Linked DNA regions of Homo sapiens: all the other regions are linked to region 1. The links come from fine-mapping of genetic effects on gene expression. A gene starts in region 1. Each other region holds a variant in brackets. All regions are shown on one strand. Distances are between the middles of the regions. Region 1 holds the start of ENC1 (ectodermal-neural cortex 1). Region 2 overlaps LINC01331 (long intergenic non-protein coding RNA 1331). Region 3 overlaps LINC01331 (long intergenic non-protein coding RNA 1331).

Region 1 (7,432 bases):
ATTTGAAGTTAAAAATCATACTATATGGAGCCAGGTACCATGGCACCCGCTTGCAGTCCCAGCTACTCAGGAGGAAGAGGCAGGAGGATGGCTTGAGCCCAGGAGTTATACGCTGCAGTGAACCATGTCGGCCTGTGAATAGCCACTGCACTCCAGCCTGGCAACTTAGCACGGGCTCACCTCTAAAAACAATCATACTATACAATCCAGCTTAATTCACAAAATACACATAAGGTGACACACATAATGGATGTAGGAAGCAACTGAAATGTTAAAATATGATCAAACCAATTCGGATGCAATCTTAAGAATACTCCTAAGGAGGCCAGGAGTGGTGGCTCACACCTGTAATCCCAGCACTTTGGGAGGCTGACATGGGTGGATCACCTGAGGTCAGGAGTTCGAGACCAGCTTGGTCAACATGATGGACCCCTGTCTGTACTAAAAATACAAAAATTAGCCGGATGTGGTGGCAGGCGCCTGTAGTCCCATTTACTTGAGAGGCTGAGGCAGGAGAATTGCTTGAATCTGAGAGGGGGAGGTTGTAGTGAGCCGAGATTGCGCCACTGCACTCCAGCCTGGGCAACAGAGTGAGACTCTGTCTCAAAAAAAAAAAAAAAAAAAAAAAAAGGAAAAAAAAGAGGAAGAATACTCTCAAGGTTTATCATGACAGATATTTAACATAAACATAACTTTTTTTAACGCACAAAGATAGAAGATGGCAAACCAAAATTTAGAAAACTATCGATTTAGACCCTTTGTCTTCCCCAGACAAAAAAGTGATAACTGTTTTATAAAATGCTGATAATTTCTTGTATCGATTACCTGTGTTTTTCCTTATTCTCATCTCTTTAATAAACAGCCAGACTTTCCTCTCTCTCTCTTTTTAAAAATAAGAGGATTGCTGATGGAAGCTGAGGTCTCATTTTCCTAGGTTTGTATATCTGTATTCTCACTGTTCTGAGGTCTTCAGATCCTCCTTTGGGAATGGAGGGCTTATTCCTCCAGCCTCTGTGTGTGCTGGCAGCTCCCTCAGCAAAAGAGCACCACCTTGCCCAAAGCCATGGTCCCTTCCCTGGGCAAGCTGCATTCAGCAACTGGGTGATGTAGCCCTATAAAAGCCTTCTTGCCCTAAATGCAGACAACCTGTGAGGCCATTTCAGCTCCAGAGGTCCCCATGGCGTCAGCCAAGGCTTGGCTGAGACCACATCCCAGCTCAGCATCTCCATCTGTCCACCCTGCTTCCCTCCCTTCCCCTTCAGGGATGTTGATCGCAACATATGTGCTACTGGGAGGTGTGGTCCCTGACTGGGCGTCCACTTCCCAACACGAACTTGACACTATGGAAGGGGAGCACAAATCTTTGGTGGGCAGTTGGCCCCTCTGCCACACTCTGTCTCCAGGACACAGCCTTGAAGTCCATCTAGCAAATAACTCGGGGAAGGAAAGCTGTGCTATCTTCCTTGCACAGATTCAGAAAGTGTCCTCATAAAACAAAGAGGGCGCTTTTGGAATACCAGCAGGGAACATGTCTGAATTTGGGTGGGGCTTCAGGAGACCACCGGAGGCAGGATGGCAGCTGCTTAGCCTACTGTTTGGTCTAATTCCCTGAGCTGTCCTGTCCCTGGTACCATGATCGCACCGTGTTAATTAAATCATTCTCATTAATTCAGCCCAAGTGTAAATTAGGAAGGAATGAAGATAAATTAGGTTTGAAGGCAGCTAATACATTTAACCGCATGCTGCTTATTTTGCGGCCTAACAAAATAACATTGTTAGGGGAGATAACAAGCCCAAAGCCTTGGGCACAGCTTCTTAATAGCATTAAAAAATGAGACTTTGGTTTGATGTCACAAGACAGAGGCAAAGACCTGCTCCCAAGGGCCTACAGGACTGGCCTAATGTCTTGTGTGAAGTGTTGGCTATTGTGTAATGCGGATACAGTGTAAGCAGCATTTCCTGACTTGTTTGTGACTCAGATATCTGCTATGTCTATGGTCGTCCAGTTTTGATGACAGCCCTGTTTAGAAGTTTCTTCCTGTACAAAATGAAGACTTGCTCAGCTTTTCTTTGTGTGAGTGGGGTGATAAGAGTTACCTTTAGGATTGGCTGAGAGATGCTGTGGGATTACACCGTTTGAATTGCTATGATCATAAATTTGCTAACTTGCAAATCATTTTCAGCTGAGATAAGCATTAAAAACTGCCCAACTGCCCGAAAACTAGTCATAGATTGGCTCAAGCAAACCAGAGTACAGTTTGTAGGAGGTCATCAGTAGCACCCATGATTTCCAAACTTGCAAGTTTAGTTCTTGTGACTTTCAGCAGGAAAATGTTTTCCAGTTTTTAGGACTTACATAAGCTAATTTCTTTTCTCTTGTATTGCTTATCTCCCCGAGGCAGATGAAGCGAATGTATACGGTCACTGAATGCATTTCAAGATTTTCCAGTCTACAGCTTTTTTTCCCTTTCTTCTATTGAAGCATAGAAAGTGGCAACATTAGGTAGAAAAGATACAGGAAAGTGGCACCAGCGGATGGTGACACAATGGCCAGCGGATTTCTTTCCTTTCTCAGCCCTGCCTGCTTAGCAAAGTTCTTTGCAAAGGGATCTGAACTTTGCTGTTCCCTTGGTTAAGGACATCCCGCAATTTCTAGGTGGTAAAGATACATACCTGTCCCTAGTTCTGTCGCTTCCTGTGGCAAAATCCCCAACCAACCAGCTGAGCTATGTACATAGTCCATTTCTAGGCAAGGTCATCTAGGTGCCGTTTTAGGTAGATTTGACTCACAAAGGAAGCAGACAGAGTGGGTCTAGGAGGTGTCTAAAAGGTGCGTTGGTGGCTGCCTTGATGAGCTCCCCCACACCTTGCCACAGGCTACAGAAACATGTTTTAAAAAGACATATGTGCAATAGTTACACATTTCCGCCTCCCATCTTTTCAGCACCTATCTCTGGAGTCTACAGAGTTTCCATCTGTCTGGTCTTTGCTTCAGAACCTGGGTGCTGCTTGCCAGCCCTCTCCTAACCTCGCAGCCCCCCTGGCTCTCCATACGTGGTTCTTGACATGAATTGATCCGGGCTGTCTCTGTGAATCAGCCTCAAGCCGAGACTCTGCATTAAAAAATATATATATTGAAAGGTTCGTGGTGAGGCTGCCGAGTTAATGCTAACAAAGGACTTCAGAGGGCACTGTCTTTCTTTGTTTGCAAGGAGCGAAATTTCTCGGCGCAAATACCAGGAAGGAACAAGGATAAAGGAAAATGAAATTAGAATGAAGAACTGACAGTCTTGGTTTCAGCAGTCTGGACTCTGGAAGCGCCATGTGGGGCCTCCTTAGCCAGTTTAAATCGCTCCTGCGCCTAGTGTTTTAAAGCAAGCTGGGAGGCGAAGCGCGGGCGCTTGGGGACGCGGGGACCCGGGGACGGAATAAACTCTGTCGTGGGGCCCTCACTCTCGAGCTGCAGAGCTGGGACATTGTTGCTAAGTGACTACGAGCCAGGCAATTCACATCTCCCTGGGCCTCGGTTCCCCACCTGTAAAACAAGGGGGCTGGACCGGTCATCTATCCCGTTCATTTATAGACTTAGCTCCAAATACCGAATAAAAGACAGATATTTTAACTCCCAGTGGAAAGACAAGCCTCTAGTTGCAAAGATAAATGGGATTCGTAAAAGTGATCACCACGCGAGATTATTTTTCGAATCGCCTTCCCTTCTCCTGACACGCGGGACTATTAAACGTGTGTGTGTGCTGGGCCATTTCTTTACTGAACTCCAAACTAACACCACCGAGCGATAAAAAACAGGAGAAGGTGATGGAGGCTTAATCGCTAGGAGAGGAGGCGGCGTGGCTGCTGCTTTGAGGAGTTCACTTTGAATCAAGCGGCCGCGGCGATTGGCTGAAAAGCACGTGGTGCGCGCCCCGCAGGACTGCGCCCCGGCTGCCCCTGCAGTCGCCTGGCTTAGGGCAGAGTCCAGCCGGGGGTGCCGCACCCACTGGGGAGTGGGGAGGGAGGACACATAGGAAATGCCTGGGGCTGGAGTCTCTTTGGCTCTCTGCCAGCAAGAAACTTAAACGTCCTGGCTTGCTCAACCCGAGTGTCCCTAAACTGTCCAGACTTTTGCCCGTCCATTGCCACTATCTCTCCCCACTCTGGGTGTCCTACCCAAGGCGCTGTCTATGCGTGCCCAGGGCCTGTCCTGCGGATACCCAGCTCGCCCCTTGCAGCCCTTTTTAGAGCATCTCGCGGGCTCTGGCATCACCAAGCGCACAGCCCCGGGCTGCGCTCCCCTAAGGTGGGTCCCTCAGATCCGGGGCTGTCCATTAACCAGGCTGGCCCAAAGAGGCGCAGACACTCGAACCCGGGAAAACTTATTTTATTCTCGGTTCCCGGGGTTGCAGCTGCCAGCGGCTGAGACAGTGCGTCCGCTTTGTCTCTCTGCACTCCCCGCAGCCCCCCTCTCCCGCTTCCTCTCCCGATTAACTCCCCCGACACGCTCTTCTCTAGCTCCTCTCCTCCTCCCACTCCTTCTCCTCCTCTTCCTCCTCCTACACCACAGGCCGCGCTAATGCGCTTCCTCCCTCCCCCGGTGTCGGTCTCTTTGCATACGCGCCCCCTCCCCTCCCCGCCGCGCCACTTATAGCGGGGCGCACGGCGGCGGGGCGCAGACTGCTCTGGCAGCCGGAGAGGAGGCGGTGCGGCGGTGGCGCTGCGGAGACCCGGTCCAGACGCCTGGCGGCCGCCGGCACACAAGGCGCTTTCTAGCTCCCTCCCCCGAGCGCACAGCCCGCCTCCTTCCGCGGCGCCTGCAGTGGCAGGCTTGCTCTGCCCTACCGTGACGCGCTCCGGAGACGCTCTGCGGGTCCTGGACACCGGGTCCGCGGCGTGGGGACGACAGACGGAGGCGAACGCCATCGGTAGCCGGTCCGCGAGCCATCGTTCGGGGCGCAGTCCTCTCCCCGGCTGGCCCTCCTTTCTCCGGGGCATTCGCCACCGCTTCCCTGGGCTGAGACGACCGGTTCGTCGCCTCCTTGCCCGTGACCGTCGCTAGAACTCAGTTGTGCGTTGCGGCCAGTCGCCACTGCTGTAAGTTTCCCCCACTGCCCCGGACCTGTTGCAGGCGCTGCGGGCTTCAGGGGCTGCTTCGGCTGCAGGGGTGTGTTCGCGAGGGGTGAGCGTGCTCCGAGCACTCGGGAGCTTCGACTAGAGGGCAAGGGGAGCTCTTCTCGGTGCGGAGATCACGGTGCCCGCCGCTGCCCTCCCACAGCAGGCAGAAGCCGGGCATCGCCGGAGAGGTCGACCGGCCTCCCCTCCGCGGTGCAATGTCTGGGGCGAGCCGCTGGGGAAGCGAGGAGCCGAGCTAAGGATACAGTCAGCCTCTCTCCTCTGCGGAAAGCAGCGCTTTCCTGGGGGTGAATGTCGCGCTGCGTCGCTCCCCGCAGCCTCCAGGGCCGAGCGCGCGGGATGGTTGGCCCACGTTGCATCCTCCCCGGCTTGGAGGAAAGTTGGGGCCATGCACAGACACCCTGAGTGCGGGCATGTTCACTGCGGCGGAAATGTCTATAGAGAATGAATGAAAACTGCTTTCTGAAAAACTAGTTTCTTGATCTGTCGTGTTAACATTATTAGTTACAAAGGATAGGAATTGGTGGGCCTGGAGATGAAACACTGAATTTATCCACATGCGGTTTGGTGTCACACAGGCATGGCCAGCTTGTTAAATAGCGTTGCAAGTGTTAATAAAAAGACTCTGGCAAGAAGCTACTTTTGTTAACAAGATCTTTATAATGTTCTATTGTTACCGGTAATGTAAATGCCCAGAAAAAAATCTGCTTAGTTTCTCTTTTGATTGGATTGAGATCAGGTTCAAAACCTGGAGAAGGGTGCGGGACGCTAAGCATTGGAGGCAGAGAGCCTGAGTTAGGAGCATGAAGTGAACTGAAGTTACTGTAACTGAAGCCCTTTTGATGTTCACAGTAATAGCAGCCCTTTCTCTGTCTTCTTTGCAGACGTAGGTTAAGTACATGTGTGCATTTTCTTGGCCACTTACTTGGTATGCAAATGTGATTTCTCTGGGGGCTTAAAAATGCTCGAAAGATGATTCATTTTATGTTGAAGGTGTGTTCAGTGACTTGTATACATGGTTTCTGCTGATATTTTGAGGTTTGCACAGTTTTAAACCAGAAAGCAAGTATTTCCTCTTGGGTTTCCAAGTTTACTTTTTATTTTAATCAAACATTGTTGCAAGAATGTTGATTGTGATTTTGACTGTGACGTGCTTTTCCATCTGGGTGGTATCCAAGATGACAGGCTAGGCTCTTCCTTCTGGCTTGTTGGGCCAACCTGGAACATACAGGAGCATAAACACAGGATGCGGAGAGATGTAGATCCTATATCCTAAGGTCTTCTAAGCAAATTGTTTTCTTAGGTGTAAGTCTGGTTGTGAATGTTGTTTTGCACCATCCTGAATTTAATGTTCAAGGAAATGTGTTCTGGGCCTAGCATGATTCCAGCTCAATGTGTAAGCATTTTGGTGCCTGTGCACCTAGTTTCAGGGAGCCTCATTCTTCCTTCACTCAGGGCAGCATTTGCTCTGAGAGAGGCGGCAGATTCACAAGAGTAAGTAGACAGTCTATTGAGGTTTAGGTTTAAAGTCTTCCTCCAGATACTCCAGATTGAATGTACTAATTAAAATAGCAACTACAGTGGTGGAGCATTGAGAATGCTAATGAATGTTTTAACCCTTTGGAAACCTGATGCATTCCCATAGGTTCATATGGTCATTCTCCAAAACACTGGGCATTGGTTAGAATGGAGTAGACAGTAGATGCTTAGCTTGAGGTGGGAGTGAAGCTGGCTCCTCACCATTTTTTATATCTCAAGTCACTGTGGAAATTACTGGGTGCTTTGTAAAGTCTTCCTAACACTGGAGCTCTAGGACTTTGTTGCTTCCTTTCTTCCACTCAGCCATGTTTACTCATCATAAAAAATTATATTCCAAAAAGGAAAGAAAACTAGTTGCATCACCTAATGGTATGAGGTATATGTGTCATGCCCCTGCCTTTGTGGTTTTCTGTGCAGTCTTATAGTGGGGCTCACATCTGGTTGGGGAGGTGCAGGTTAGTATTTTAGCCCATGAATCTGTGGCAAATCATTCATTTGCATTTATTAATAATTCTTAGAATATGCATTTAAAAATGTCTGAATGGTTAAAGGAAACAGAGTTTCAGCTGCGCTTTTGGGACTGGCTGTTATGTGTCTGGAACAGATACTGCAACCAGCCACACAGTTTACCCTCTGGGGATAAACAGCGGGATAAACAGCTTCCTTAGGAATCCTTGGACAGGCAGGTTCTTGAGGACTTCATTCCTTTGAAGTAACAGAGGGATGGTGTAAAAGAAAAGGATGAAGGCATGTGATTCAGTTTTTG
Region 2 (7,432 bases), 130 kb after region 1:
ACATTTCACTAGCTCCTGCTGAGAAGGTAATGGCCAGGCTTCACACATGGAGTTTTATTATGAGAAGAGAGAGTAGCAAGTGTGGGAAGATGAATTTATCATCCCTGCACACACACCACCTCAAAACACACCTGTTTTTTTCTTAAACAGCTCCTTGTTTAGCATTCTTACAAAAGGCATGATAATGTTGGAGGATCAATGTAACATACTGTAAGTGATAAGAAGTCCTAAATGTCCTAAATTTATTAAAGGCCTGTTGTGTCCTGGAAGCTGTACTAAAGCCTATGGAAGATGCAAAGAAGAACAAGGAGTGAGCCTTGGCCTCAAGAGATTTACAATATATTAAAACACCTAAGACACCAAATACGAGTGCTTTTCAGAGTGGTTCTTAGAATCACAGGTCTGTTACAAAAGGAGATTCTTAAGATCCAAAGCAGATGGGACCTAGGAATCTGCCTTTAAAACAAGCCCTCCAGGTAATTCTGATCTACCCTGTGGTTTGAGTAGCATTGGCCCAGAGCAAATGTAGGCTCTAAGCCTGGGGTATAAAGGCTTCAATTCTGTGTTATATAAGCAGTGTAGCCATATCTTGTAGGAGAGCATCAAGGCATATTTGAAAGAAGTGTGCAGCCTATAGGCCTCAAGATGAGAAATATGTGGCAGGTGTGTTTGCAAAGTGGGGGAATTAGCATTGGGAGGGAAAGAATAGCATGACCTTCGTGGTGACCAGTGGAATAAATAAATATAATCCCAATGTTTATGGAACGTCTTGTTGAGTTACTGATGTATTCATCATTAGGGTTTAAACCTAATGCTTTTTAGTGTGCTGTCAGATCAGGAGGGAAATCCAGAGGCTTGCTTCTCCACAAATATTTATCAATGGATGTTTTGGGAATTAAAACATGCCAGGAAATAGGGGCAAAGTACACAAGTGCCTGTCTTTGTGTGGGTAGGTTGTGTAGATTGGGATATTCACTGGATGGAATAGTTGGTGACCTGTATTTATTTGGGGTATTCCTGTTTGTGATGTTGAAGGCTAATTCCTAGGAGAAGAAACTGTGAAATTTGCAAAGAAGAATTTATAGAGGGCCAGTGAGCAGACAGAGGAATGATTGTGTTGGGAACAGGAGGCAGCTTGGGAAGCTCAGGAGTTGTTCTATTCCCTGGCTGTCTCCCCGGAGGACTTTCTGTGGCAGAATCCAGGGCATGTTGTCCAGCCTGGGATCAAGAGGCTAGGAAGGAGGTGTAGGAGTGTAAAGCCTAGAAGTGGACCTATGGCCGAGCAGAATGGTCCCTGCTTTCTGTGACTAAGGCAGCTCAGAGAGTGCTCAATTTAAGCCTGGAGTGGAAGTAGATGAACTTGCTGGAAAGGAGCATGATCCTCTGGTGGGGCTGCGGCAGAGTGGAAACGTGAGGACATGGAAGGAAACTGGTTCATGCTGAAAGCGCAAGTCCCGTTAACTGAATTGCAGAGAACAGTGTCTGTTAGCCTAACCTTGAACCCTGAGATGTTCCTCCACTGCTTTTATGTGACTAGCCATGGGAAAAAGGAGAAATAGAGTCGTAGGCTGGGAGAGTGATAGACTGGGGTGGAAATCTTTGGACAAATCCATTTCTTATTCTCTAGGTAGTAATGGGCCATGAGTTGAGGAGTCAATAGCAAGAACTCATAGGGGAAGACTTTGGTATGTGTTTGGGATTGTGCCTTTGGGAGTTTTTAAAATCCTGAGATGAGGGAACAGACTACTGTGAAGGCATGATGGATCCTGTGAACTGAACTTTTTACTCTGTCCTTGGGACAGTTATAAATTGAATGTTATCCTGGCTGGAAAACAAAGGACACTTAGTTTGCCCCTTTCCTGGCCCCTGATTGGGCACTTTGGCTCAAGGTAGACTGCACTATTTTTGTTTAGTAGCTTCTCCAGGCTGTTCTTTTTGTTACTGTAATAACTAGTTAAAGGTTGTGAAGCATGTTCTCCGACCTGTGTTATAACTCTTGATCCATCTGCAGGGCACTGGGTAACCTCATCCTCCTGGTCCTGGGTTTCTTTTTGGCCCCAAACAAGTGGTGAGGGGATGCTGGGCTCCATCACACCGGAGGTTCAATTTTGCATGGTGAGTAAACAAGCAGAGAAGGCTTAGAAGAGTCCCTTTTCCAGGAGTACCCCACAAGGCTGGTTTGAAGCAAGGCTGGAGCCCCAGAAAGCTGTTCTTTAGCTCCACAGTGGCAGCATGCCCTGTAGGAACCCCTCTGATCCTTTGTGACACTCTTGTTCACAGTCCTGTGAAACGGTGCTCTGTGGGAGACTCTAGTCTGCTAGGAGAGCTCCCTTATTCTCAGCACGGACAGAGGGAAACCATGAAGCAAGGGACCTAATTTATTTTTCAACAACACAACACACCAGTGCATACTCTTCCAAGTAAGTGAGTGTTAGCCCTTTCAAAGTAGCTCCAAAGTGGAGTGAAAATTCCCCCTTGTCCCTCTGTCATTTTCTCCGACTGTATTCAGTGAGGAAAAGTCTTTATGCTTGGAAGGTAAATTGATTCTCAAAGACCATCCACAGTCCTTAGGAGTCAGGTTCAGTAAAAAAAGTAGGCCTAATTGTAATATCCTAATATTATCTTCTTCATGTAAAATGGCTCTGAAAGCAATGACAACAATAATTCCAAAATGATTCCAAAAAATGGCAGCCCAGTTGAAATAATCCTTCAAGATGAATATTTTCATGATAATGTATAAGCCCCTTAGTAATGTGGCTAATCTATTTTTTAAACCTATTTCTCTCATATATATAATTCATATGCCTACTATTATTTGCCAACTAATACTAAATTTATAGTTCTCAGTGAGAATTGTTGTTTATCTAAAACAAACTGTTTCTGTATTTATAAGGTTCTTTACACAAATAAGGTGTTTAAAAAATTGGCTTTGAGCAAACAAAAATGCAGTATGATTTTACTAGAATGATTGCTTTGGTCAGCACAACTATGATGGACTAACAGCTTTTCTTCACTACATGTTGATAGAGTGAGAAGATTTAAAACAAGCATTATGTACATTAGCTGGGACACTTACTATTAGTGACAAATACTAGGAGAGAGGCTCTACTTGAACAGGCTCAAACTTAACTTAAAAATTATTTCTGCCTGTAATGGACCTTTTAGTTGTCTGAGCAATTGAGTGCTTTAAATAACCCCCATACATATCAAGGACATTCTAAATTTTTTTCCTTGGCATTTGGAAATTTCAAGTTAAGGATGCCTGCCCTTGCTCAAGTTACACACTCTTCAACTTGGGCAGTTGAGCAGAATTCAAAAGATAAGATGCGAATGAGTCTATCTATTCATGTCATCACACTTTGCTAAATTGCCAGGCTATTTGATGAAAGGATAGCTCAGTTCTCACTAAACTGCAAGTGGCTTTGGCAGATCTTTAGCTGGAATCCACTGAGGAGCTCTCATTTCTGAACACTGATTGGGAAACCAGTTGTATTTTAAAAGATTCTAACGATTTAGAAGCTCTGAGACCCCTTTAAATCTCTGTTTTGAGAGACCCATTGATTTATAGTAAAATATGAATGTAAGAGATGAACCTGTGGCATCATAACTAAGGGCGCTTGGCACTCTGGAAACTGGCTCAGAAGGTAATCAACATAGAGCTAGAGCCATAGTCTTAGTTTTTGCTGTAGTCAATCAAGCAAAGGGGAAATTTCTACTCAAAAACACATAAATAATTTTGATTTTTTCTGTATTACCTTGAAACTTCAAATGGGCTTATAAATAGGAAGAGAAAATATTGCCAGATGGGTTGTATTCAGTAGTTATTTTTAAATGAAATAAAAAATTATGGCTAAATCTATTGCCTAAAAATTGTGCTGTAAAATATGTAAATAGCCTGTATCATTAAAGCCTTTTCTTCGAGATACAAATAAATGGTTCAGAGTCCAAACTCTTCCTTAAGAGTTCAATTTACTTCTTCAAATTCCTTAAACTTGAGATAGGTTTTGCAGTTAAATACTCCTCATTTGCATGCTTAGTCAGAAGGGAGTATTATATATAGATTATATGGAATCTTAGCCTATTTACAAATAATGAATGTTACTGAAAATATTCTGTCATAGAGACACATGCGTGTGTATGTCCATCACAGCGCTATTCTCAATAGTAAAGACATGGAATCAACCTAAATGGCAATGATAGACCAGATAAAGAAAATGTGGTACAATAACACCATGAAGTACTATGCAACCACAAAAAAAAGAAGATCATGTCCTTTGAAGAAACATGGATGGAGCTGGAGGTTATTATCTTTAGCAAACTAATGCAGCAACAGGAAACCTAATACCACATGTTCTCACTTATAAGTGGGAGTTAAATGATGAGAACACATGGACACATAGAAGGGAACAACACACACTGGGGCCTATCAGAGGATGGAAGGTGGGAGGAGGGAGAGGATCAGGAAAAATAACTCATGGGTACTAGGCTTAATACCTGGGTGAC[G/A]AAATATTTTGTACAACAACTCCCCATGATGCAAGTTTGCCTATATAACTAACCTGCACACATACCCCTGAATTTAAAATAAAAGTTAAAAAAGGACACATTATACAAACGATGTCAAAGGAAGTTTTGAAAACAAAAGTTACTCATGACCCCACTACCCCAGCATATTTTTTTATTTTTATGTATTATCTTCCAATTATTATTCATGTACATTCATATTCTTATGTACTTGCAATCATTATATGCACCATTTTATAGTCTACATTTTCATTTAGGATATCTGTGCTGGTTATTGGTTATATTATTGAGAATATTCAAAAAATACAAGAAAAATAAACAGGATGTTTGAAACTCATAAGATGTGTTAAGCACACATTGCTGTGTAAGCAAGTAGCTCATGTGATATAGGCAAAACTCACTAGCTGTGTTAGGCATGCAGATAAAGAAGAAGCAAGCAGACTGTGCAATGTGGGCAAAATATAGGTAGTGGGTATATGTTAAATATAGGTAGTGGGTAACCTGAAAGATGTGTTAAGAATGGAATGGAATATATAATGGAACAAATAAGATGAATACTTTTAGATAAAGAAGAAACAGAAAGATTAAATCATATGATTTGGTCACTTCTGGGATGACAGCTATGCCATCCCTAAATTGGCACCTAATAGGAACATCCATTATACCCACTATGGGCCCATATGTACTTGACCCCAAAAATGCAAATAAAAATCTATAGTTGCTCAGCAGGCTGTTTGGCAAGTTACAGCTATAGCCAGCTTTACTTGCCCTCAGATCTCTGTGGAGTATGAGCACATCTTAGCTCCAAGCACATTACATTTGCTGGGCCTCTTTTTTTAAACCTCATTTTGGGTCCTTATAACCACATCAGTAGCAGAGGAGGCTCATGTGGAGGAGAAAGAGACAAGGCATATGAACAATTGTGTAAGTAGGAATCAGGCAGTGTGGTCCTCCCAGTTGGCTTATATTTACCTTACCCTAAGTGTGTTAACCTAGCCTGTCTAGTTCCCCTTACATCTTGCCATGTGTTTTAAATAAATTTAATACATTGTGCAATATCAGCATCTTATTGCAAATATGTGAGTCTGTGACTCTTTCTATTCCATGACCCTGGGATAGCCTGCCCGGTAGTGTACTAGGAGGCTGCCATATGACAAGGGCTAGCAAATGAGCTAGGTAACTTGAAGGGAGGAGAAAGAGAGTTATTAGGGTTTTAAACTGGGCTTAAGGGTATAAATCAACTGAATAACATGAGACTGTACCTGGCACTCATCGGAGGCCATTTGTGCCAAAGACCCTTGGCTCTGCAAGCCAAAAAGTGCCGACTAACCAACTGTTTTTTTCCTATAATGGAGAAAGCCCAAGAGAAGGGAAAGAGGGAAGAGTTGTGTCCTAGAAGCTGTATCTTTAAAAAACAAAATGCTTCCATTAAAGTGTTGTAATTGAACATACTTCAGAATAGACAGTGTGAACCAAGCATGATTTGCTGCTTATAATAAACTAGGATAGATCAAACATTTGAAGTTACCTCCTAATCAGGGATTCATACTCTAGGGTAGTAAGTGAGCATTTGAAAGACCCTAATTTGGAATTCATACCCAGAGGCCATTACCATAAGTAGACTTTAAATAGGCCCATCTAGATCTGCCTTAGAGAATTTGTTAATTCTTATAAGGGATGCTAGAAATTTTTTATTGGGGAGCTGAATGACATTCTATTTATGTGCATTGAGTAGAAATATTCAATTGCATGAACAGAAGACAAGACTCTGGTAAGTCCAAAAGCCTAATACCCTTTGGAGTGGTGGGATACTTGGTTTAGAGCTTCAGTCTAGTCCAGTGTTCTGCCACTTGATAGATGCTTCTGTCACCTAATCCAAATAGAATATTAGCTTAATCTTGCCACTAGAATATGGCCACATCTACCTCAGGTAAACTTTTCATGGAAAGTGTTTGCTGACATGCTTAAAGGACAGAGAAGCAGGAGCTCACCCATTAAAAGAACAGATTACATGACTTTTTTGGCCTGTTTGTTAATAAATGTTTACATGTGTGCTGAAAGGTAGCTTGATACTTGTTGTTATTATAATATATTGTCAAGAACTGTGAATGGTCTGAGACTTAGCCCTACTTACAAGTTAACAAGGTGGTCTGCCATAGTTTCATGGATGTTGGTAGAAGACATGAGACTCTTCAGTCAGAGATGAAGGACAGTTTATCCCTCACAGCAAAAGCAGTAGCCAGAGTATTAGCATTTTTGTCCCAGTTCCTCAAGCCTCAATCCCCAAAGTGTGATGGGAAGGCCAGGTGACACCAATACATGGAGTGGATTATGTTACAGGAGATGACCCCTTCATTGAGGGAAACGGGATCTTATATATCTTATAATGGGAAGCAAACTCTGGAGAGAGACACTCTGTCTTCCAAGATTATTCACTATACAAACACTTTTGAAAAGGTAGTCCAGAACAAAGGCAGTCAATGTCTTGCTAACAAGACATGCAGAAAGTGAGGGAATCATGGAGAATTGTCTCTAGGTCCATTTTCTGTTGTTTATAACAGAATACCTTGAAATTGTGTAATTTATAAGGAATGAAATTTATTTCTTACTGTTCTGGAGGCTGGGAAGTCCAAGGTCAAGGAGGGACACCTGGTGAGAGCCTTCTTGCTGGTGGGGACTCTCTGCAGAGTCCTGAGGTGGTGCAGGTATCACATAGTGAGGGGGCTGAGCATCTTTGTTCAGGTTTCTCTTCCTCTTCTTACAAAGCCACCAGTCCCACTCCCATGATAAGCTATTTACCCATGAATCCATGAATGGATTCATCCACTCATAAAGGCAGGGCCCTCATGACCCAATCACCTCTTAAGGCCCTGCTTCTTAATATTGTCACATAGGGGATTAAATTTTAACA
Region 3 (7,432 bases), 190 kb after region 1:
CAAACCACTATACAAATTCTTTAAACTTCAGATAGATATTTCTTTTATTCTGTCTCTAAAAAATGCAATAAAAGCCTCAGTTCATCAGGCACCATAATTTCTTAAAAACATTTTGACAGACATTTTTTCAGAGATGGCTTTGATATCTATGGAGTATTTAGGATCTTGTATGGTAGAAAATGGAGTTAAACATGGAGGAGATTCTAAGATTTTCACATAGAAACATTCTGATCCATGCCGTCTAAGAGTAAAATACCAACACGTTCATGGTAATGTTGAGCTCCTGGCTTAGCAGTTTGGATCTGAGCAGCAGAGTTCCAGGAGAGCATGTGGCTTTTTAAGTACATATGGGTTAAGCGTTTAAAGCATTGAGTGAGTATCAGCTACTGTGTAGGGCTCTGCCCTACCTCAGCAGTAGTGTAGTGGACAAAGCCCTTGTTATGGTTTGCATTTGTGTCCCCACCCAAATCTCATGTCGAGTTGTAATCCCCACATGTCGGGGGGGACCTGGTGGGAGGTGATTGGGTCATGGGGGTGGATTTCCCCATTGCTGTTTTCTGTGATAGTGAGTGGGTTCTCATGAGATCTGGTTGTTTAAAAGTGTGTGGCATTTCCCTTTCTCTCTCTTTCTCCCCCATGTAAGACATGCTTACTCAGTCTTAGTTAGTTCTCTATAGAAGTGTGAGAATGGACTGATAACAGCACTGAACTTGGAATCCCTGGGTTCAAGTCCTGGCAGCTCCTTACTAACTACTGACTTGAGAAGATTCCTCTCTGAGCTGTGGTCCCCTCATCAGGAGAATGGCAATACTCTATTCAAAGGGTTATCATGAAGATTAAATGACATAATGTGGATGAAAATATTTGATAAACTGTGGAGTTCTATACAATATCACGTATTACAGTTGTGTTAACCCTGTTAGAAGCAGGTGTGGCTAAGAATTGATAGAGTTTAACTACACACATTCCTACCCTGGACATTCTCACCTATCAATGTATGGCAAGTCTGCCCCACCCCTCCTTCTCTGCCCTGCTATGTTGATTTGATAGCAATTATGGGGCATCAGTCTTATGAAATCATATTAGGTCTTGTAACGTCACCAAAGGGACTCCAAGTCAGGATAGGTACAGGCCTAGGGTTCCAGAGGGTTGATAATTATTTTTACTCCAAATTGTGAACTGATATATTTTTCAAGAACCAGAGGTAAGAAAGTTAGATTCAAAAGTAAGAACATGTCACCTGGTTGGAGGTAGAAGAGAGAAAATTCCACCCTTGTGGCATCTGAGCATGGAGCCCTGACAGAATGGGGGGCATGTGAAGACCTATGCTTTGTTCTTGGCACTAAAGAGCCAGTCTCTTGGGCTCCTTGGCAGGAATGAACTGTAGCATTTGTTGGGGCAGAGAGAATATTTAAATGGAGTTAGTTTCAATTTCTCAATTTCTTGTCACTAGGGATGGGTAAGCCAGTAGTGCTCTATGTTTTCAGAAAGCCTTGACTTATTTTTCAAGCATTTTGGGTTTGGCTAAATTTTACATTTGTTTTGCCAGCTTTCTTTTCTTAATTATTAATATTAAACCCATGTGCATAAATCTGAATGGAAATTTAATAGCCATTTTTATATTTGTTTACACTCAGTTCATCCAAAACTGTGTTGACTAAAAGCTGTTATATCTTATAAGAATTCCTTGAAATTTATAAAAATTTCTCTTCATAATATGTCACACTTATGTCCTCACTCCCTACACACAAAAAATTGGATTTGGGGATGGTTATGATGGAATTCCAGTTCCAAATGCATGATTCTTGTGACAGGGTCCGAATAATACAAGTGAGTTTTCACCATCTTTTTCACAGTTGACTTTGAGGCAGTTGTTTTGGTAAACCCCCAAATGAATTTTCTTTCTTTTATTTTCTTTGTAAGACAAAGTCTCACTTTGTCACCCAGGCTGAGGTGCAGTGGTGTGATCACACCTCACTACAGCCTTGACCTTTCGGGCTCAAGCAATCCTCCCACCTCAGCCACCCAAATAGCTGGGACAACAGGTGCATACCATGATGTCCTGCTAATTTTTGTATTTTTTTTTTTTTTTTTTTTGAGACAGAGTCTTGCTCTGTTGCCCAGGCTTGGGGTGCAATGGCGTGATCTCAGCTCACTGCAACCTCTGCCTCCTGGGTTCAAGCGATTCTTCTGCCTCAGCCTCCTGAGTAGCTGGGATTACAGGTGTGCGCCACCACGCACCAGCTAATTCTTGTGTTTTTAGTAGAGACGGGGTTTCACCATGTTGGTCAGGCTGGTCTCGAACTCCTGACCTCATGATCTGCCCACCTCAGTCTCCCAAAGTGCTAGGATTACAGGCGTGAGCCACCATGCCTGGCTAATTTTTGTATTTTTTGTAGAGCAGGTGTTTCACCATGTTGTTCAGGCTGCTCTCAAACTCCTGGGCTCAAACGATCTGCCTGCCTCAGACTCCCAAAGTGCTAGGATTACAGGCGTGAGCCACGGCACCTGGCCTCCAAATGAACTTTTGACAAAGCACATGCTATTTTAGAATACATTATTGCCCATCCCTAGGCCTTTCACACAGTTGCCAGACCTATGGAAAAGCAATTTCTGTGACCCAGCATTTTTTCCCCCAAGTATAGCACACAAATTGGCTCTGGGGAGTAGGAGATGAGTAAAGAGTAATGGTAATTTCCAAATAATTCTTATCGTCTCATTGCCCAGTAATCCATCCGTGTCTCTCTTAGGTTTTGTATGGTACTAACTACACCAGCAATGTTGATGTAAAGGAAAACACATTATTTTGTTAATGATAGAATCATGGTGTTATTTTGTTATGGTCACAAGGTACTATTCTATTCATAACAGTTTGTTCTCAGATGACAGCTGGAGTTGGACCTGGAGTTACTAATATTAGAGGTGGGGGTGGGAGAGGAAGGAGGTTTAGTGATTGTCCAGTTCTGGGCGGAGAGATCTTTATTACCAGAAGGTCTGAAATAATAAATGAAACAAATATAAACCTGGCCATATGGTAGATATATAAATGCATTTGAATTAATAAATTTAATCTTAAAGATTAAGCATTTTTATGCCTAAAGAATTATAAGCATTAAATTGAATTACATAGCCAGAAAAATAGTACAGTTGTTTATTCTTAGGTTGTTCTCTCCTGTCCTTTGTCCACAGAACAGAGCTGTGTCTCCTTGAATTGAGAATTAATTTTGTACTTTATCTCAGTTAATACAATTTTAAATGTAAATACTGTACTTTAATGAGCATAAGATTGGAGGGTGGAAAAGGGATCCAAAATCGTTAGATAGTTGGTCATAATTTATGAAGTTGTTTGCCTTAGAAGGTGCACTGTTTACTTTTTTTTTTTCTTTTGATAGAGACAGGGTCTCACTATATTGTTCAGGCTGGTCTTGAACTCCTAGCCTTAGCAGATCCTCCCCCTTGGCCTCACAGAGTGCTGGGATTACAGGTGTGAGCCACTGCATCCAACCTGTTTTTATTTTTTAATTAAACCTTCTATTTTGAGATAATTATAGGTTTACATGCAGTTGTAATAAATAATAACAGAAAGAAAGGGCATTATCAAGATGGCTGACCAGAGGCACCCAGCACTCATCTCCTCCACAGGCAAAACAACAAATAGATAACTGCATATCAAATAGAGTGTCTAGGGGAGAACAGTGGAATTCAGCAACCAAGTGACAAACACCCTCCACGTGGCTCTTAATATCATCTATTTATTTACTATGTCTTTCTATTTTCTTGACAAAACTCTTATGTTTCATTTGTTTCAAGTGTGTTTGTAACTGCTCATTGAGGCATTTTACGATGGCTGCCTTAAAAATCTTTGTCAGATAAAGCTCTTTGACAGAGATGTTAGATATCTCCGTTCACTCAATGTTGGCATCTTTTTATTGTCTTTTTAAATTCAGTTTAAGAACTTCCTGATTCTTGGTGTCA[T/C]GAGTGATTTTTGATGGAAACCCGGACATTCTGGGTCTCATGCTATGAGACTGTGAATTTTAAACCTTGTGTTTTGGCTTGCTTCCTCGGCCACCACTCAAACAAGGAGAGGGGAAGAAGCACCTCAGTACCGGCTGATGGGGAGAGAAGTTGCTATAGTTTGGATGTTTGTTTCCCCAAACCTCATGTTGAAATTTGACCTGAATGCTGGAGGTGGTTTCCCTACTGGGACGGGTTTGGGTCATGGGGGTGGATCCCTCATGAAGAGACTGATTCTCTCCCCCGGGTCGGGAGGTGAGTGAGTTCTCCTTCTGTTAGTTCCTGAGAGAGAGAGCTGGTTGTTAAAAACAGCCTGACACCTCTCTCCTCTCTTTCACTTCCTCTCTCACCATGGGATCTCTGCACATGCTGACTCTGCTTTGCCTCCCACCATGAGTGGAAGCAGCCTGAGGCTCTCATCCGAAACAGATGCTGGCATCATGCTTCTTGTACAGCCTGCAGAATCATGAGCCAAATAAACCTCTTTTCTGTATAAATTACCCAGCTTCAGGTATTCTTTTATAGAGCAACACAAACACACTAAGATAGAAGTCTGGGTTCCTCACAGGCATCTATTAAACACTTGTGGGGGGTCTCCTTGTGTTAGTCCATTTTGCATTGCTATAAAGGAATACCTGAGGCTGGGTAATTTATTAAGAAAAGGAGTTCATTTGGCTCATGGTGCTGCAGGCTGTACAAGCATGGTGCTGGTATCTGCCCAGCTTTTACTGAGGCTTCAGGAAGCTTTTACTCATGATGGAAGGTGAAAGGGGAGCAGGCATGTCACATGGAGAGAGAGGGAGTCAGAGAGAGAGGGGAGTAGATGCCAGGCTCCTTTTAACAACCAGCTCTCGAATGAACTAATAGAGGTGACAACTCACTCATATCCACGGGGGTGGCACCAAGCCATTCATGAAGGATCCACCTCCATGATCCAATACCTCCAACTAGGCTCCACCTCCAACACTGGGGATCACATTTCAACATGAGAGTTAGAGGGGGCAAACATCTAAACCATATCCCTTCTCATAACTGCTGGGCAGGCCTGGGAGCTCCAGCACTTTACCTGGCTTCTCTGACACTGCCTGGCTGGGAGGGGTAGTAGGCATGCTTTGTTATTGCTCCCTGTGTGGCTTCCACTGACAGCACAGGAGGGGAGGTCGCCTTGTTACCACTCGTGACAATGGTAATGATGAGCATCCTGACTCTCCACCAGGTTTATGGCAGTAGTCTATCAGGGAAAGAGGAATGACTTACTGTTGCTGAGTGAGGGTAGTAGTTCAAGTTCCCCATGTGGTCTCTATATTTTGGAGTAAGGGTGGGACATGTTAAAAATCAGCAGGGATGAAAGTCCTGGCTCCCTTCTTAGTGCATGCTTGTCTTAGTCTGCTTTGTGTTGCTATAACAGAAAACTACAGACTGGGTAATTTATAAAGAAAATAAATTTATTTTTCACAATTCTAGGGGCTGGGAAATCCTTATAGGGGACCTTGAGTGGCCAGTGTCTGGTGAGGGTTTCCTTATTAAGCCACCTCATGGTGGGAGGGCAAAGAGACAGCAAAGAAAAGCAAGATGAGGAACTTGCAGCTTCAAGCCCATTGATAATCAGCATTAATCTGTTTGTGAGGTTGGAGCTCTCATGATCTAAACACCTCCCATTGGGCCCCAACCCCCAAAACTGTTAGATTGGGGATTAAGTTTTCCACACCTACTTTTTGGGATGAGCGGATTCAAGCTATAGCAGCCTCCCATAACAGGCTCCAGAGGGTAAAAATCTAGGCTTTCCCTGAGCCTTTGTTGGCATGACTGAAGCTGGGGACATACTTTTTCTGTGGTTGTATCAGGGCAGTTATTGTCTAAAAGTCTTCTGTCTTACAAGGCTGTCTAATTCCTAGTCTTTTGGCTAAAGTGAGCAAGCTTTTGTTGGGGTTTTGTTTTTGCTTTTGCCTTTTTGCCTGTGATCGATGGCATTTATGGTTGCCAGCTTCTTTATCTCCAATGCTTGGATATATGAAGCAAAAAGACATCCCAGAAAACTTCCCACCATTTTGTTTTTTCAGTCTCCCAACAGTTCCTAACAGTTCTGTCTTTTTTTCACCTTTAAGAGTCTTCTATGTTTGTTTTATACATAACAGCCAGGCTTTTTTGTTGTACTTAGTGGGAGGAATAGGGAAAAGTATATCTACTCCACCTTCCCATGTTCCCATTTTAAACAGAAAGGGAGAGATGAAATTGATGTCAGGGAAAAAAGTATGTTTTTCTTCCTATTGATTGGGAAACACAAGTTTTGTTTATTTTTAACTGTCATTCTTGAGTCAAACATTTAATAAAACTGTTATTGCCTTCCACACTCCCTCTACAGCTACAAAAGCTTACATGTTTTATTTTTCACCAAGGTTGGTCATTTGTAGCTTTGCACATGTCAGCCAGCCCTAGCAGAGGAAAACACTGGAAGATAGTGTCACAGCCTTTGGGAAGGCTCATATTTTCTGATAGCTCTCATTTCTTCGGCCGTCTGTGTCTTCACCCTTCACAGACATTGTAGTTTATCAGCAATTTTGTTTTATCACCCAACACAGGAAAGGATTTTGCTTGGCAACACGTTTATCATGAATAACATTTCAGGTCCATTAAAAATGATTATTATCGCCAAAGCTCTATTTTGAAGACCGTTTTTTAACTTTGCTATTAGCTTTGCCTTGAAAAATTGCATTTACACATTCACACACACATACACAGATGTGGAGGCTCCAGCGTAAAAACTGGCTGTTAGCATTCACATTTTATTGAACCAATAAATTGTGAGTTTAACATTTTAGTCAAATTGAATGCCAAGTGTTTCATTTCAGACTCTAGTGTCCATATTGACAGGACTTTAAATCCACTACGTGTGCATCTGGAGCTTGTTAGATGTTTATAGTTTGAATGGAGCCAAATGTCAATGGCACCTTTGGTCTATGGAGAGACCCAGAGGAGCAGGCAGTTACTCTGCCTCTGTGAGGCAGGAACAGGCACCAGAGGGCCAGCTCCTCACTGATTCACAGTGTGCAAGAAAGGCCTTGGCCAATGGGAGATTGGTTGGGTTTATAGTTACATGGTTCCTCATAATTCATCCCCAAGGCACAAGAAATATGCTCACAGAGACATGCATGAGAGGTTCTACGATGGGAAGACAAGCATAGTCTCCCTGGATAATACTAATAGAATTTAATAAGATGGAGTGTTCTGTATCTGTGCTGTTCAATATGCAGCCACTAACCACGTATGGCTACTGAGTATCTGAAATGTACCTAGTGCAATTTGTACTTCGTGCAATGGAATTTTTATTTATTTAATTTTAACTAGTTAAAAATTTAATTTTAATAGGCATATGTGACTGTTGGTTGCGTTTTGAACAGCCTAGCCATAAAGCCAAGTC

The links. PIP is the estimated chance that this variant, and not a neighbour inherited with it, causes the effect.
Region 2: its variant is the best candidate, but not a certain one, in a credible set for the expression of ENC1 in whole blood (INTERVAL, PIP 0.66).
Region 3: its variant is the best candidate, but not a certain one, in a credible set for the expression of ENC1 in whole blood (TOPMed, PIP 0.66).

The regions. Positions count from the first base shown.
Region 1 is chr5:74,637,963-74,645,394 of GRCh38, reverse strand. ENC1 (ectodermal-neural cortex 1) reads left to right here and starts at 4,667. Exons shown (of 3, transcript NM_003633.4): 1 at 4,667-5,088. It also overlaps a transcript of HEXB not described here. RefSeq lists silencers at 1,757-2,051, 4,559-4,818 and enhancers at 2,968-3,681, 3,682-4,397, 4,859-5,218.
Region 2 is chr5:74,508,817-74,516,248 of GRCh38, reverse strand. All of the region lies in intron 2 of LINC01331 (long intergenic non-protein coding RNA 1331), which reads left to right. Among named protein-coding and RNA genes, the nearest start is that of LINC01331, 24 kb to the left of the region's middle. RefSeq lists an enhancer at 1-247. The variant G/A (reference allele first, on the strand shown) is at 4,504.
Region 3 is chr5:74,449,922-74,457,353 of GRCh38, reverse strand. The region is part of intron 2 of LINC01331 (long intergenic non-protein coding RNA 1331); the gene reads left to right. Among named protein-coding and RNA genes, the nearest start is that of LINC01331, 83 kb to the left of the region's middle. The variant T/C (reference allele first, on the strand shown) is at 3,976.